Regions from separate parts of the Homo sapiens genome. Here regions 2 and 3 are each linked to region 1. Evidence: fine-mapped expression QTL. A gene starts in region 1. Each other region holds a variant in brackets. All regions are shown on one strand. Distances are from middle to middle. Region 1 holds the start of RASSF1 (Ras association domain family member 1). Region 2 overlaps DOCK3 (dedicator of cytokinesis 3). Region 3 has its middle 6.8 kb from the start of HYAL1.

What was found. PIP is the estimated chance that this variant, and not a neighbour inherited with it, causes the effect. A credible set is the group of variants that fine-mapping cannot tell apart.
Region 2: its variant is the best candidate, but not a certain one, in a credible set for the expression of RASSF1 in whole blood (TOPMed, PIP 0.76).
Region 3: its variant is the best candidate, but not a certain one, in a credible set for the expression of RASSF1 in spleen (GTEx, PIP 0.56).

Annotation. Positions count from the first base shown.
Region 1 is chr3:50,339,461-50,342,193 of GRCh38, forward strand. It overlaps RASSF1 (Ras association domain family member 1), which reads right to left and starts at 1,376. Exons shown (of 6, transcript NM_007182.5): 1 at 1,096-1,376. The coding sequence starts at 1,345. ZMYND10 (zinc finger MYND-type containing 10) reads right to left here. Exons shown (of 12, transcript NM_015896.4): 9 at 2,555-2,680; 10 at 2,350-2,471; 11 at 2,114-2,239; 12 at 1,652-2,025. The coding sequence ends at 1,950. RefSeq lists enhancers at 481-1,304, 1,305-2,127 and a silencer at 1,116-1,635.
Region 2 is chr3:51,095,498-51,098,252 of GRCh38, forward strand. The region is part of intron 9 of DOCK3 (dedicator of cytokinesis 3); the gene reads left to right. Among named protein-coding and RNA genes, the nearest start is that of MANF, 290 kb to the right of the region's middle. The variant C/T (reference allele first, on the strand shown) is at 1,380.
Region 3 is chr3:50,309,022-50,311,776 of GRCh38, forward strand. It overlaps a transcript of HYAL1 not described here. Among named protein-coding and RNA genes, the nearest start is that of HYAL1, 6.8 kb to the left of the region's middle. The variant A/C (reference allele first, on the strand shown) is at 1,143.

The sequences.
Region 1 (2,733 bases):
GTTCAAGCAATTCTCCCACCTCAGCCTCCCGAGTAGCTGGGATTACAGGCACCCGCCACTACGCCTGGCTCATTTTTTTTTATTTTTTAGTAGACATGAGGTTTCACCATGTTGGCCAGGCTGGTCTTGAACTCCTGACCTCAGGTGATCCACCCGCCTCCGCCTTCCGAAGTGCTGGGATTACAGGCATGAGCCACCGCGCTCGGCCCCTTGTTCATTCTTTGCATTCTGTCACAACTTTGTGCTCCCCCCAGCTGAATTTGTGATGTCCTCTTGTACCGGATGAGAGGGTCTCCATGCACACACAGACCTGGGACACTATCCATCCACAAGTTCCTAAATAGGCCAGAGCAGTGATGCTCAACCCAGACTCCATGTTACAATAATTTGGGGAGTTTTTAAAATTTACTGATGCCTAGGGTCCACTCCCAGCAGTTGATTCAACAGGTCTGCGGTGGGATCCAGGCTAGCGGGGAGGACTGTAAAAGCACCCCTGGTGATTCCAGCTGGTGTCTACCCAGGGGAGAGCAACCTTTGCTTGCTGGCGATTCCCAGGGGTGCAGAAGGACTGCTGGGTGTGTGGCTGCGTGCATATTTTAGCATCTGATTCACTGGGTCAGAAAAGGGTGTTTGCTAAATAAAGACTCAACAAAACTCCTGCTTGCAGGGGGCCCACCAAAGGTTCTAAATTTTTCCAGGCTCCCTCCCATAGGTGGTAATTTCCCTTCACCCTAAAGGTTCTGGAGGGGGTCATGAGTGTTTGAGAAGAGGCAAGCCTGGGAAGATGGACTCCGAGGACAGTAGGCACAAACCCTTTCTCAAGAAGGGCCAAGGCATTTTAAAGATAAGAAACTTAAAATCAGCGTATTTTTACATATAAGCAGCCACCTCTGCTCATCTGTGGCCCAGATACGAGTGGAGTGCGACAAGGGATAAACCATTTTCGCGCACTCTTCAGCGATGGGGCGAAAGTAACGGACCTAGTCCTCGGGAGCTGTCCCCGCCGACCCCCTCTGCCGCGACTTGACCCGCGGCGACTGCGCTGCCCCTTGGCTGCCCCTTCCGCTCTCGTAGGCGCGCGGGGCCACTACTCACGCGCGCACTGCAGGCCTTTGCGCACGACGCCCCAGATGAAGTCGCCACAGAGGTCGCACCACGTGTGCGTGGCGGGCCCCGCGGGCTGGAAGCGGTGGCCACGGCCAGGGACCAGCTGCCGTGTGGGGTTGCACGCGGTGCCCCGCGCGATGCGCAGCGCGTTGGCACGCTCCAGCCGGGTGCGGCCCTTCCCAGCGCGCCCAGCGGGTGCCAGCTCCCGCAGCTCAATGAGCTCAGGCTCCCCCGACATGGCCCGGTTGGGCCCGTGCTTCGCTGGCTTTGGGCGCTAGCAAGCGCGGGCCGGGCGGGGCCACAGGGCGGGCCCCGACTTCAGCGCCTCCCCCAGGATCCAGACTGGGCGGCGGGAAGGAGCTGAGGAGAGCCGCGCAATGGAAACCTGGGTGCAGGGACTGTGGGGCCCGAAGGCGGGGCTGGGCGCGCTCTCGCAGAGCCCCCCCCGCCTTGCCCTTCCTTCCCTCCTTCGTCCCCTCCTCACACCCCACCCCGGACGGCCACAACGACGGCGACCGCAAAGCACCACGCGGAGATACCCGTGTTTCTGGAGGCCAGCTTTACTGTGCTAGAGGAAGAGGGTCCCCACATCCGGCCCTGGCCCTCCTGGTCCGGTTTGCTGAAGCAACACACTTGGCCTACCCACTGGGTGGGGCAGGAAGTCTCGAGCCTTCACTTGGGGTGAGGAGGAGGGAGATCGGTCAGCAGCTTTACCGCCCGCTCTGCTCTCCACTGCGGAGACTGGGGCTCCGGCAGAGGCTGGACCGTGATCTTGAGGTTCAGGGGTGCATTCTGGGTGGATTCCCTTGGCATGGGTGGTCGGCCCTCAGCAACTGCAGCCCTCATTTGGCTCTGTCACCCTGGGCTGCCAGGACACAAGTCTTTCCATGCTTTTCCCAGTGCTTGACTTGGCACTCCCTGCAGGCAGGTGGGTATTGAGGATGGCAATGCATGTGGGGGATGTGGGAGTAGGGCTTAGAGGTCCAAGGTTCTAGGATACCCTCACCTGCAGCAATACCACTCATTCTGGCATCGTGAGCAGCGCTTAGAAGCCTCTGCACTGCAGTAAGCACAGCGGGGCCGCTCTGGAGCCACTGCCTCTAGCACATCCAGCCTGTAGGTCTCAGCCCACCTGGGGGAAAGTCAGGAAGGTCTGACTGGCCCTGGAAGGTGGGGGCACCCCACCCACATCCATGCCTCCTGCATCCCCTCCACCCTCCCTGCCATTTCCACAGGCCTTACCTTCGCGCCTGCAGCCGCAGGTCCTGCTCTGAGGGGCTGAACACATGCTGGAGCTGGTGCTTGGCAATTGCCTGCCACTTGCCTCTGTTTTCTCGCTCCAGCCGCTCCCAGATTTCTGGGATCTAGGAGAGAGAAGTGGAGAGTGGCAGGAAGGTGCTGGTAAAGTGGGACAGTGGTCCTGAGCAGCTAACTTTCCAGTGCCTACCTGTTCCAACACCAGGTCCTTCTTAGGAGGCTGGGTTTCAGTTAGGGTCAGATGGGCCAGGAAACTCTGCAAGTGGGCCAGGTTGGGCAGCTGGTCCAGCAGTGTGTCTGTGAGGAAGGCCCGAAGCTGCAAGGGTGTCCAGTGGAGGCCAGTGTGATGCAGGTGCTGGCCAGGGGGCC
Region 2 (2,755 bases), 760 kb after region 1:
TTGGGGTATTAAAAAAGCCTGGAACTGACAACACCAGAATCCAGAATCTCCCAGTTTCTTAATACCAACTTGATGGTGGAATTTGCATTGTCTAGTGCAAAATGCAGCCCTTTTAACATTTACATTTGATCTTTATCTTCTGGTTATACAGATTACTTTATCTAATTTTACCTGTTATTTGTTTTAAAGCTTTTCACCCCATCTTACCCAACTTTTAGTGGAGAAAGGTAATACTCAAAAGCTCTCTCAATTCTTATAACAGCATATAAAACATTTCATGCTCATTAAACTAACACCCTTCATTCTCTCATTCTTTTCAAATGTCAATCCTTAAGTGACATAAATAAGGTTAGCAAAAAAAAAAAAAAAAAAAAAAAAAGAATGTTGACTATTGGCCCCCATGCTCTCTGGCAAAAAAAAAAAAAAAAGAATGTTGACTATTGGCCCCCACGCTCTCTGGCTTGTAAAGCTTCTGCAGAGAGATCCACTGTTAGTCTGATGGGCTTCCCTTTGTGGGTAACCCGACCTTTTCCTCTGGTTGCCTTTAACATTTTTTTCTTCATCTCAACCTTGGTGAATCTGACGATTATGTGTCTTGGGGTTGCTCTTGTGTCTTGGGGTTGCTCTTCTCAAGGAGTATCTTTGTGGTGTTCTCTATATTTCCTGAATTTGAATGTTGGCCTTTCTTACTAGGTTGGGGAAGTTCTCCTGCATAATATCCTGAAGAGTGTTTTCCAACTTGGTTCCATTCTCCCCGTCACTTTCAGGTACACCAATCAAACATAGGTTTGGTTTTTTCACATAGTCCCATATTTCTTGGAGGCTTTTGTTCATTCCTTTTCTTTTCTTTTTTTTTTCTCTAATCTTTTCTTCACACTTTATTTCATTAAGTTGATCTTCAGTCTCTGATATCCTTTCTTCCACTTGATCAATTCGGCTATTGATACTTGTGTATGCTTCACGAAGTGAAGCTGTGCTGTGTTTTTCTGCCCCATCAGGTCATTTATGTTCTTCTCTAAACTGGTTATTGTAGTTAGCAATTCCTCTAATCTTTTTCAAGGTTCTTAGCTTCCTTGCATTGGGTTAGAACATGCTCCTTTAGCTTGGAGGAGTTTGTTATTACCCACCTTCTGAAGCCTACTTCTGTCAATTCACCAAACTCATTCTCTATCCAGTTTTGTTGCCTTGCTGGTGAGGAGTTGTGATCCTTTGGAGAAGAGGCGTTCCGGTTTTTGGAATTTTCAGCCTTTTTGCACTGGGTTTTCCTCATCTTCGTGGATTTATCTACCTTTGATCTTTGATGTTGGTGACCTCCGGATAGGGTTTCTGTGTGGACATCCTTTTTGTTGACGTTGATGCTATTTCTTTCTGTTTGTTAG[C/T]TTTCCAGGTCTGCTGGAGTTTGCAGGAGGTCCTTTCTAGACCCTGTTTGCCTGGGTATCACCAGCGGAAGCTGCAGAACAGCAATGTTCCTTCCTCTGGAAGCTTCGTCCCAGAGGGGCACCCACCAGATGCCAGCCAGAGCTCTCCTGTATGAGGTGTCTGTCGACCCCTGCTGGGAGGTGTCTCCCAGTCAGGAGGCACAGGGATCAGGGACCCACTTGAGGAGACAGTCTGTCCCTCAGCAGAGCTCAAGCGCTGTGTTGGGAGATCCGTTGCTGTCTTCAGATTCACAGGCAGGAGCATTTAAGTCTGCTGAAGCTGTGCCCACAGCCACCCCTTCCCCCAGGTGCTCTGTCCCAGGGAGATGGGAGTTTGTTCTGTAAGGCCCTGACTGGGGTTGCTGAGTTTCTTTCATAGATGCCCTTCCCAGAGTGGAGGAATCTAGAGAGGCAGTCTGGCTACAGAGGCTTTGAGGAGCGCAGTGGGCTCCACCCAGTTCGAACTTCCAGGTGGCTTTGTTTACATTGTGACAGGAAAACTGTCTACTCAAGCCTCAGTAATGGTGGCTGGCCCTCCCCTTACCAAGCTCCAGCATCCCAGGTTGAATTCAGAGTGCTCTGCTGGTAGCGAGAATTTCAAGTCTGTGAATCTTAGCTTCCAGGGCTCCATGGGGGTGGGATCTGCTGAGCTAGACCACTTGGCTCCCTGGCTTCAGTCCCCTTTCCAGGAGAGTGAACGGTTCTGTCTCACCTCACTGGCGCTCCAGGCGCCACTGGGGTATGAAAATAAAACTCCTGCAGCTAGCTTGGTGTCTGCCCAAACGGCCGCCTAGTTTTGTGCTTGAAATCCAGGGCCCTGGTGGCGTAGGCACCTGAGGGAATCTCCTGGTCTATGAGTTGCGAAGACCGTGGGGAAAGCGTAGTATCTGGGCCAGAGTGCACTGTCCCTCATGGCACAGTCCCTCACGGCTTTCCTTGGCTAGGGGAGGGAGTTCCCTGACTCCTTGTGCTTCCCTGGTGAGCCAATGCCCAACCCTGCTTCAGCTCACCCTCCATGGGCTATACCCACTGTCTAACCAGCCCCAATGAGATGAGCTGGGTACCTCAATTGGAAATGCAGAAATCATCTGCCTTCTGCGTTGATCTCGCTGGGAGCTGCAGACCAGATCTGTTCCTATTTGACCATCTTGCCAGCCACCGATCGGAGTTTTGCTCTTTTGCCCAGACTGGAGTGCAGTGATGCGATCTCAGCTCACTGTAACATCCGCCTTCCGGTTTCAAGCTGTTCTCCTGCCTCAGCCTCCCGAGCAGCTGGGATTACAGGTGCCCACCACCATGCCCATCTAATTTTTGTATTTTTATTAGAAATGGGGTTT
Region 3 (2,755 bases), 30 kb before region 1:
CCTGGCCAACAGCTTTTAACAATTTAGTACAGTCCTATGAACAAAATTTGGAGCATATTTGTTTCTCTACCTGATTTCTCCAGAATTTGGAAACTATTTGTGAGTATTCTTAACTTATGGCAATACAGTTATTTGCATAAGTGCCATAAGAATCTGTTTTTGCCTGGCATGGTGGCTCACTCCTGTAATCCCAGCACTTTGGGAGGCCAAGGTGGGCAAATCACCTGAGGTTGTGAGTTCGAGACCAGCCTGGCCAACATGGCAAAACCCCATCTCTACTAAAAACACAAAAATTAGCTGGGCATGGTGGCACATGCCTGTAATCCCAGCTACTCCAGAGGCTAAGGCAGTAGAATCGCTTGAACCTGGGAAGCAGAGGTGGCAGTGAGCTGAGATTGCACCATTGCACTCCAGCCTGGGCAACAGAGCCAGACTCCACCAAAAAAAAAAAAAAAAAAAAGAATCTGTTTTCATTTGTAACAGGACACAATTGGAGGAATTGATTATTTGACCAAGACTTTGACAGGAATGGTGTGCTTTCGTTTAAGGAATCAAACTTAACTTATGGAGCCAATAAAGCCCTTGGGAAAACTGGCCTCACATTTTGTGTACACAGTCCCTGTACAGGATTTCTTACCTGTGGTAAGTAAAGAATGTCACTTTCTGGGGCCAGGAGTGGTGGCTCATGCCTGTAATCCCAGCACTTTGGGAGGCCAACGCGGGAGGATCACCTGAGGTCAGGAATTCAAGACTAGCCTGATCAAAAAAAAAAGGATGTCACTTTCTGACAGGCACAGAGGCCCCAGGTTTATGTTTATCTTGGAACTTGAAAGGAGAGGAAATTCCATCCAACTCATGGGTATTTGATGGCACAAATCCATGGCTGGGCAGGGCTTTAAAAAGTCTTACCTGAGATTCCTCTTATGGGACAAAATAAATTATTCTTGCTGCACTGTATACAAATATTTAGGCCAAGTATAATAAGCAAACAAGTCATACCATGATTTGTCTTTAGTAAAATGGGAAATTGGAGAGAGAATAAAATCATGTTTCAAAACGAATGTTCACCTGTTGTTAGATTCTAGTCTTAACTGTTTTTTTGTTTGTTTGCTTCCAATTTTTATGATTTTCTACAGTTTGGA[A/C]TGAATTTTTCTTGGCTACAAGTCTTCAAATTAAGTTTTCAATTTTTTTCCTTCTTTTTTTTCATTTTCCTAATTTGGAGTCACTGAAAACTAAGCTGTGTGTTTTTTTTTTTTTTTTTGAGACAGAGTCCCGCTCTGTCACTCAGGCTGGAGTGCAGTGGCAGGGTCTCAGCTCACTGAACCTCCGCCTCTCAGGTTCACGCCATTCTCCTGCCTCAGCCTCCTGAGTAGCTGGGACTACAGGCAACCACCACCACGCCCGGCTATTTTTTTTTTGTATTTTTAATAGAGATGGGGTTTCACCGTGTTAGCCAGAATGGTCTCGATCTCCTGACCTCGTGATCTGCCCGCCTCGGCCTCCCAAAGTGCTGGGATTACAGGAGTGAGCCACTGCAATCGGCCACTGTGGTTTCTTTTCTTTTTTTTTTCTTTTTTTTTTTTAATTATTATTTTTTTATTGATCATTCTTGGGTGTTTCTCGCAGAGGGGGATTTGGCAGGGTCACAGGACAATAGTGGAGGGAAGGTCAGCAGATAAACAAGTGAACAAAGGTCTCTGGTTTTCCTAGGCAGAGGACCCCACGGCCTTCCGCAGTGTTTGTGTCCCTGGGTACTTGAGATTAGGGAGTGGTGATGACTCTTAACGAGCATGCTGCCTTCAAGCGTCTGTTTAACAAAGCACATCTTGCACCGCCCTTAATCCATTTAACCCTGAGTGGACACAGCACATGTTTCAGAGAGCACAGGGTTGGGGGTAAGGTCACAGATCAACAGGATCCCAAGGCAGAAGAATTTTTCTTAGTATAGAACAAAATGAAAAGTCTCCCACGTCTACATCTTTCTACACAGACATGGCAACCATCCGATTTCTCAATCTTTTCCCCACCTTTCCCACCTTTCTAGTCCACAAAACCGCCATTGTCATCATGGCCCGTTCTCAATGAGCTGTTGGGTACACCTCCCAGACGGGGTGGTGGCCGGGCAGAGGGGCTCCTCACTTCCCAGTAGGGGCAGCCGGGCAGAGGCGCCCCTCACCTCCCGGACGGGGTGGCTGGCCGGGCGGGGGGCTGACCCCCCCAACTCCCTCCCGGCCGGGGCGGGGGGCTGACCCCCCAACCTCCTTCCCGGACGGGGCGGCTGGCCGGGCGGGGGGCTGACCCCCCCACCTCCCTCCCGGACGGGGCGGCTGGCCGGGCAGAGGGGCTCCTCACTTCCCAGTAGGGGCGGCCGGGCAGAGGCGCCCCTCACCTCCCGGATGGGGCGGCTGGCCAGGCGGGGGGCTGACCCCCCCCCACCTCCCTCCCGGACGGGGCGGCTGGCCGGGCAGAGGGGCTCCTCACTTCCCAGTAGGGGCGGCCGGGCAGAGGCGCCCCTCACCTCCGGGATGGGGCGGCTAGCCAGGCGGGGGGCTGACCCCCCCACCTCCCTCCCGGACGGGGCGGCTGGCCGGGCGGGGGGCTGACCCCCCCACCTCCCTCCCGGATGGGGCGGCTGGCCGGGCGGGGGGCTGACCCCCCAACCTCCCTCCCGGACGGGGCGGCAGGCCGGGCGTGGGGCTGATCCCCCCACCTCCCTCACGGACGGGGCGGCTGGCTGGGCAGAGGGGCTCCTCAC